Linked DNA regions of Homo sapiens. The protein of the gene in region 1 purifies or fractionates together with the protein of each later gene. This does not show direct contact. Each region holds a gene or a part of one and is shown on either strand. Other genes may lie near its edges.

The links.
Region 2: the proteins of BSDC1 (region 1) and KLC1 purify together in Homo sapiens (affinity purification with western blotting, with the first as the bait; one study listed by BioGRID). This does not show direct contact.

The regions. Positions count from the first base shown.
Region 1 is NC_000001.11:32,367,112-32,370,584, reverse strand, and holds part of BSDC1 (BSD domain-containing protein 1), read left to right. Parts: intron 1-1,246; coding exon of another isoform or gene 1,247-1,355; intron 1,356-2,034; coding exon 2,035-2,138; coding exon of another isoform or gene 2,139-2,252; exon of another isoform or gene 2,253-3,473.
Region 2 is NC_000014.9:103,652,913-103,656,731, forward strand, and holds part of KLC1 (kinesin light chain 1), read left to right. Parts: intron 1-1,651; 5' UTR 1,652-1,652; coding exon 1,653-1,913; intron 1,914-3,819. UniProt on the Homo sapiens protein: Kinesin is a microtubule-associated force-producing protein that may play a role in organelle transport. The light chain may function in coupling of cargo to the heavy chain or in the modulation of its ATPase activity.

The DNA.
Region 1 (3,473 bases):
TGATCCACCTGTCTCGGCCTCCCAAAGTGCTGGGATTACAAGCGTGAGCCACCACGCCCGGCGACATGGCTAGATTTGATCCCTGGGCCATAGTTTGCCAACCCCTGGTTTACAGAAAGGGTCTGTGACTATTGAGTGCCAACTATGTGTTCTAAAAACTTGAAATACATAAGAGAACAAAACAAAAGATCCTGGCACTCACAGGGCTTATATTCTAACTCCTCTATTAATATACAATAAACATATTAAGTCTGATTATGTAATATGTTAGAAAGTGATCACTACAATGGGAAAAAGAACAATCCAGAGCCAGGCGCAGTGGCTCACGCCTATAATCCCAGTACTTTGGGAGGTCAAAGCAGGCGGATCACCTAAGGTCAGGAGTTTGAGACCAGCCTGGCCAACATAGTGAAACCCCGTTTCTACTAAAAATACAAAAATTATCCAGGCATGGTGGCATGCCCCTGTAATCTCAGCTACTCAGGAGGCTGAGGCAGGAGAATCACTTGAACCTGCGAGGCAGAGGTTGCAGTGAGCTAGGATCGCGCCACTGCACTCCAGCCTGGGCAACAGAGCGAGACTCCGTCTCAAAAAATAAATAAATAAGTAAAAATACAAAAATTAGCTGGATGTGGTACCAGGCAGGTGCCTGTAATCCCAGCTACTCAGGAGGCTGAGGCAAGAGAATCTCTTGAACCCAGGAGGCGGAGGTTGCAGGGAGCTGAGATCGTGCCACTGCACTCCAGCCTGGGTGACAGAGCGAGACTCTGTCTCAGAAAAAAAAGAACAACTAGAGCAGAGTGAGGGTGATGATGGGTTGCTCTTTAAACTAGGATGGTCAGTGTAGGCCACATCTAGAAGGTACGATTTGAGCAATGGCATGAAGGAGGTGAAAAGTTGGTCTTGTAGATATCTGAGGATACGAGTTCCAGGTGCAGGGAACAGCCCATGCAAAAGCCCTAAGTTGGGAATGCGCCTGGTATGTTTCTGGAGGAACAAGATTAGTGTGGGCAGAATGGAGTGAGGAAGAAGAGGTCTACTGTTTGGGGGTCCGAGGGGAGGTTTTTGTTTTCTTTAGAGACAGGGTTTTGCACTGTCAACAGGCTGGACTGCAGTGGCATGATCATAGCTCACTGCAGCCTTGAACTCCTGGGCTCAAGTGATCACCACACCTCAGCCTCCTGAGTAGCTGGGACTCCTTAGGTGTGTACTACCATGCCTGGCTAATTTTTAAATTTTTTTCTAGAGACAAGGTCTCAGTTCACTGTTGATTTCCTCTGGAAGATTTCTGTGACTCTCTTGGAGCCTCTGGGCCAAAGTGCTTCTCCGCTCTTTAGTAACCTGCCTTTTCCGAGGTAATAGTTTAAGGCTGTTTGGCATGGATGTGAAGTTCTTCTCCAGCCTAACCTCTAACAGCCTACAGTGTTCCACCATGTAACTCACTGTTTACTTGTCTAATTCCCTGTCAGTGGGCTTTCAGATTGTTTCTAGGTTTCCATCACTATGACAGCACTGCAGTGAACACTCTTTGCTAAATTTCTGACTGAATCCAAGATTTTTCCTTAGAATAGATTCTTAAAAGTGGGGGCCAGGTGCGGTGGCTCACACCTATAATCCCAGCACCTTGGGAGGCCGAGGTGGCCAGATCATTGAGGTCAGGAGTTTGAAACCAGCCTGGCCAACATGGTGAAACCCCGTCTCTACTAAAAATACAAAAATTAGCCAGGTGTGTGGGGCGTGCGCCTGTAGTCCCAGCTACTTGGGAGGCTGAGGCAGGAGAATCGCTTGAACCTGGGAAGCAGAGGTTGCAGTGGGCCGGGATCACACCACTGCACTCCAGCCTGGGTGACAGCAAGACTCCATCTAAGAAAACAAAAAAAAAAAGTACGATTGGTGCGCCAGAGTGAACACAAAATGTAAAGACTTGTGTATTTGTGAGACCCTTTTGAAGCATGCTATCTCCCCAGCTACACCCTCTTCAGGTGCCCCTTCCCTGCCTCCTCCTGCTTTTCACACTGTGGCTCGTGGTTCCAGGCTCAAGCACGGACATCAGTGAGGACTGGGAGAAAGACTTTGACTTGGACATGACTGAAGAGGAGGTGCAGATGGCACTTTCCAAAGTGGATGCCTCCGGGGAGGTGAGTGGGCCTGGTGGGTCAGAGGGAAGCGAGCCTAATGGTCCTGGGTGTGAGAGCTCTCCCCAGCCAGCCCAGCTGTCCCCTCAGGAGGGTCCCTGCTCCTGTCTGAGGTGACAGGTGGTGGGAAAGGAGCTGGAGCTTCCTGCTCAGACCCACAACATTGGTCATCAGCAGGCTGCACTTTTCCTCAGTTCCAGGGTGGATAGAGGGTCAAGTTCTTGACCTTAGCTCTGTATCAAAATTGCCTGAGAAACTGCTTAAGAAAACAGATGTCATGCTGAGCGCGGTGGCTCACACCTGTAATCCCAACACTTTGGGAGGCCAAGGTGGGAGGATTGCTTGAGGCGAGGAGTTCAAGACCAGCCTGGCCAATATAGTGAGACCCCATTTCTGTTTTTGAAAAAAAAAAAAAAAGGAAAAAAGAAAACAGACATCAAACCCTGCCTGACCTTCTGAGTTGTGGTCCTCAGGTATGAGGCCTGAGTATATACTTGGCCTTGGAGACAAAAGACCAGTGTGATCAAGGGCAAGGGCAAGTTACTTAACCTGAGCCCCTGGTTCCTCATCTAAAACATGGAATTGATCATTATAAGACCTGGCTATAAGCTGTAATGAGGTGATCCATGTAGACACCTTAGGGCTATTGCCTGAGACATGGTGACCAGCACTCAGGAGACATTAGTGATAAACCCCACAAAACCCATTCCAGTTATTAAGCTCAAGGAGGCCTTAGTACTGTTATTCTTCACTACCTCTCAGAATCAAAAGTGGCTCATTTAGATTGAGAGGCTGGAACAGTCCAAAGCTCTCCCAGCTAATAAGTGACAGGACTGAGGCTGCAACCCAGACATCTGATTCATGTCAGCGTTAGTTCCACTGTCACATAAGAACCACATGAGTCCTTCCATCATGTAACTTATGAGCCTGTTAGAAAGAGGTGGACAGATTAGAGAGACATGTGAAGGGCCTCCTTTTTCATGATGGGAAACTGAAGCCTTGGGGGAGTATTTTACCTACTCAGGAGTATTTTGCACTTGTGACTACCTCACTATACCCAGGACAGAGAAAGCCCATAGTGCCCTGTCAGGCCACAGGGGCTTGCTGGCTTTTTGTGTCTTTGCAGCCCCCTTTAAAACCTGACGTGCAGTACACGTGAGCATTCTAGAACCTGCTATACCAGGGCTTAGCCGACAGCAGGCCAAGAGTAGGAACAAAGCAAGAAAACGTTCCGTGGGGAGACTTGAGCTGGGAATTAGGGTGTTGGTGCCCCTAGTGAAGACCTAGTGGGCATCTGTAGGCCACTGCCACCTCTGCTTTTGGCCACAGTGCCACTCA
Region 2 (3,819 bases), on another chromosome or scaffold:
GAAAATCATTTTTCCAGTGTGTGATGCAGAGACTAACGTGACCCTATTCTCAAGCACTCATAGCTTCACCCCAAAATCCTGGAATATATAGTCTGTATCTGCTGATTCAGCTTTTCTTCCCTTCATGCAGCGTCTGTCAGTCCATCCATTCACTACATGGACTTTCTGGGCCAGGAGCTGCCTCTAGAAGCTGTGGAGTCCTACAAGATCAAGTCCCTGCCTTTTTTCTTTTTTTGGGAATTTTTTAAAGAGACAGGGTCTTGCTCCGTCACCCAGGCTAGAGTGCAGAGGTACCATCATAGCTGACTGTCACCTCAAATTCCTGGACTCAAGCGATCCTTGTGCCTCACTGAGCCTCCTGGGTAGCAAGGAATACCTGCACATACCACCCAGCTAATTTTACTTCATTTATTTTTATTTATTTATTTAGGCAGAGTCTCGCTCTGTCACCCAGGCTGGAGTGCAGTAGTGAGATCTTGGCTCACTGCAACCTCTGCCTCCCGGGCTCAAGTGATTCTCGTGCCTCAGCCCCCTGAGTAGCTGGGACCACAGGCGTGTGCCAGCACACTCACCTAATTTTTGTATTTTTAGTTGAGACAGGGTTTCGCCGTGTTGGCCGGCTGGTTTTGAACTCCTGCCATCAAGTGATCCGCCTGCCTTGGCCTCCCAAAGTGCTGGAATTATAGGAATGAGCCACCATGCCTGGCTGTCCTGCCTTTTTAAATAAGAGCTTATATTCAAGGTGACATTAGACACTTAATGAATCGTGAGATTTTAGACAGTGGCAGTGCTGTGAAGGAAATAACTCTGACGTGTAATCTTGCCTCCATCCCTGTCACTGTGCCGAAAAAGATCACTGCTCACTATCTTTCTGTTTTTTAAACTTAACTATGGGTTTTTAAGACTTAGAAAAAAGGAGAGAGGCTAGCAGAGGGAACCATTGCTCAGTGACAGCGGCTGTCAGGCACAACAGCACAAATGATGCTGTTTTTATATTCCCCTTTCCTCCCCCTTTTCTTTCTCACTTTGGTGTTTGAAAGCCCCTTCCAGACATTGCATCACATCACCCTGGGCCTGGCCCTGGTGGTGCTTCGCTGTGCCATCCTCATCTGTGAGCCTGCCCGGTGACCGTGCTGCACCTGTCCTTGATGCCCTGTGTCTTCCAGGTCTGCTCCTCCCCTGCTGCTCTTCCTGTTCCATGTTCTTTGGCTGGTTTTTCTTTCTTCTTCCAGCTGTGTGACTCCTTTTCAAGCCTTTGTCCAGTTAAACATTTTACCAAGAATGTAGTGTTCTTCCTGCATTTCATTAGGAAGAGAAAAAGGCTTGCAAACATTCTGAGAAAAAATGTTGTTCACCGAGGCTATGTGTTTTGGAAATGCCATTTAGATGTTTTGCTGCTTTTAATCTTTGGCATTAATTTCAGTTGCTGTCATAAAAAAGAATTAAGACATAAACCAGAAAAGTAATTAAATGTGTCTGCAAAGGAAAAACAGAAACTGCAGAATATGGTATTTCAAGGTCATAAATTACAAATGTGCATATTTATTATTCCCCTATAAAATGTTAATTAAAAAATTTTCATATTTACTTGATGTAACAGAAATGAAACCTGTAATGAGGGATCTAATTTCTTTTTCTTTTTTCATTCCAGAATGTATGACAACATGTCCACAATGGTGTACATAAAGGAAGACAAGTTGGAGAAGCTTACACAGGATGAAATTATTTCTAAGACAAAGCAAGTAATTCAGGGGCTGGAAGCTTTGAAGAATGAGCACAATTCCATTTTACAAAGTTTGCTGGAGACACTGAAGTGTTTGAAGAAAGATGATGAAAGTAATTTGGTGGAGGAGAAATCAAACATGATCCGGAAGTCACTGGAGATGTTGGAGCTCGGCCTGAGTGAGGCACAGGTACGAGTGAGAATGACTCAGACGTTATCAGGAACTTTTGATGGTAAAATGGAGACTTGTTTGAAATAAGCAGTTTCACTAAAGAAGAGGAAAGATGATTATAGAATAACAGATCCAGGCCGAGTGCGGTGTGGCTCAGGCCTGTAATCCAAGCACTTTGGGAGGCTGAGGCAGGTGGATCACTTGAGGTCAGGAGTTTGAGACCAGCCTGGCCAACATAGCGAAACCCTGACTCTACTAAAAATACAAAAATTAGCCGGGCCTGGTGGCTGGCGTGTGTAATCCAGCTACTAGGCAGGCTTGAGGCAGGAGAATCACTTGAACCTGGGAGGCAGAGGTTGCAGGGAGCCAAAATTGCATCACTGCACTCCAGCCTGGGTGACAGAGCGAGACTTTTTCTCAAAGAAAAAACAAAACAAAACAGATCATGTGTTCTGTATGTTAATAAATTACTATTGATTTGGGCCTATCAGAATTGTATTGATTGATTGATTGAGATGGAGTTTTGCTCTTGCTGCCCAGGCTGGAGTGCAGTGATGCAGTCTCGGCTCACTGCATCCTCTGCCTCCTGGGCTCAAATGATTCTCCTGCCTCAGCCTCCCAAGTAGCTGGGATTACAGGCATGGGCCACCACACCTGGCTAATTTTGTATTTTTAGTAGAGACAGGGTTTCTCCATGTTGGTTAGGCTGGTCTTGAACTCCCAACCTCACGTGATCCACCTGCCTCAGCAAAGTGTTGGGATTACAGGCGCGAGCCACCATGCCCGGCCTCTGAATTTTATTTTTATTTTTATTTTTTTGAGACAGTGTTTGCTCTCGCCGCCCAGGCTGGAGTGCAATGGCTCAATCTCAGATCACTGCAACCTCTGTCCCCCGGGTTCAAGTGATTCTCCTGCCTCAGCCTCCCAAGTAGCTGGGATTACAGGCACATACCACCATTCCTGGCTAATTTTTTGTATTTTTAGTAGAAACTAAAATGTTGGCCAGGCTGGTCTTGAACTCCTGACCTCAGGGCCTCTCTGAATTTTGAAAAGCGGATCCAAAATAGTGGATACTGCTGTGTATCATTTAGGATTTGATTTGGCTGCCAGTATCAAAAAAACAAAAACAGTGGCTTAAACCACAAGATGTTTGTCAAATAAGTACTGAGGTACACTCTCCTGGACGGGTTCTGTAGCTACACAGTCATCGGGGATACTCAGGTTCCTAACATCTGCCACACTGCACCTTGGCAGCCTGTCTTGGGGACTGAGAGTGAGCTCCATGTGGCCCTGTTCTAGCATAGGGGAAGGGAAAGGAAGGACGTGCCTCCTTCCTTGAAGGCTGCTGCTTTGATGATGTGTACAGCAGTGCTTACATTGCATTGGCCAGACCTTATGGCTGTACCTGGGTGAGTGGGAGACTGGGGAATGTTGTCTTCCCACTTACAGTGGCAGGTCCTTAAGCCTAAGGAAGGAGAATGGACACTGGCCAGTGGGTGATGGTCTCTGCAATCCCAGGGCCAGATTGCTTCATATCTTTGACTAACCTTTGTTTCTATAATATCATGCTTGACATAGAGATGAAAACACTGGAAACATCTAGGTTTTTAAATACTCTCTCCTGATAACTTCTGGCTCTGTCAGCATATCTTAGGTAAAATTAAATATACCAAAGCTTTGCTTCTTTCTTAGCATTCTCTAGTTTAGTGAGTGAATAGAGCAGAAGAGGGGCTGCTGGCCAGCGGTTTCTGCTTTCATAGAGGAAGTGACTGCCCACACCCTGATTTTAGAGTCTTCATCCTAACCATGTTACAGCCTTGAGTTGCAGAACTGTAGCTCTGTTTGGATATTGTGAACGTATTATTTCTCAAGTTCTGTTACCTTGAGAACAGGTGACATGAATTTAAACTTGCTTTTTTGGTGT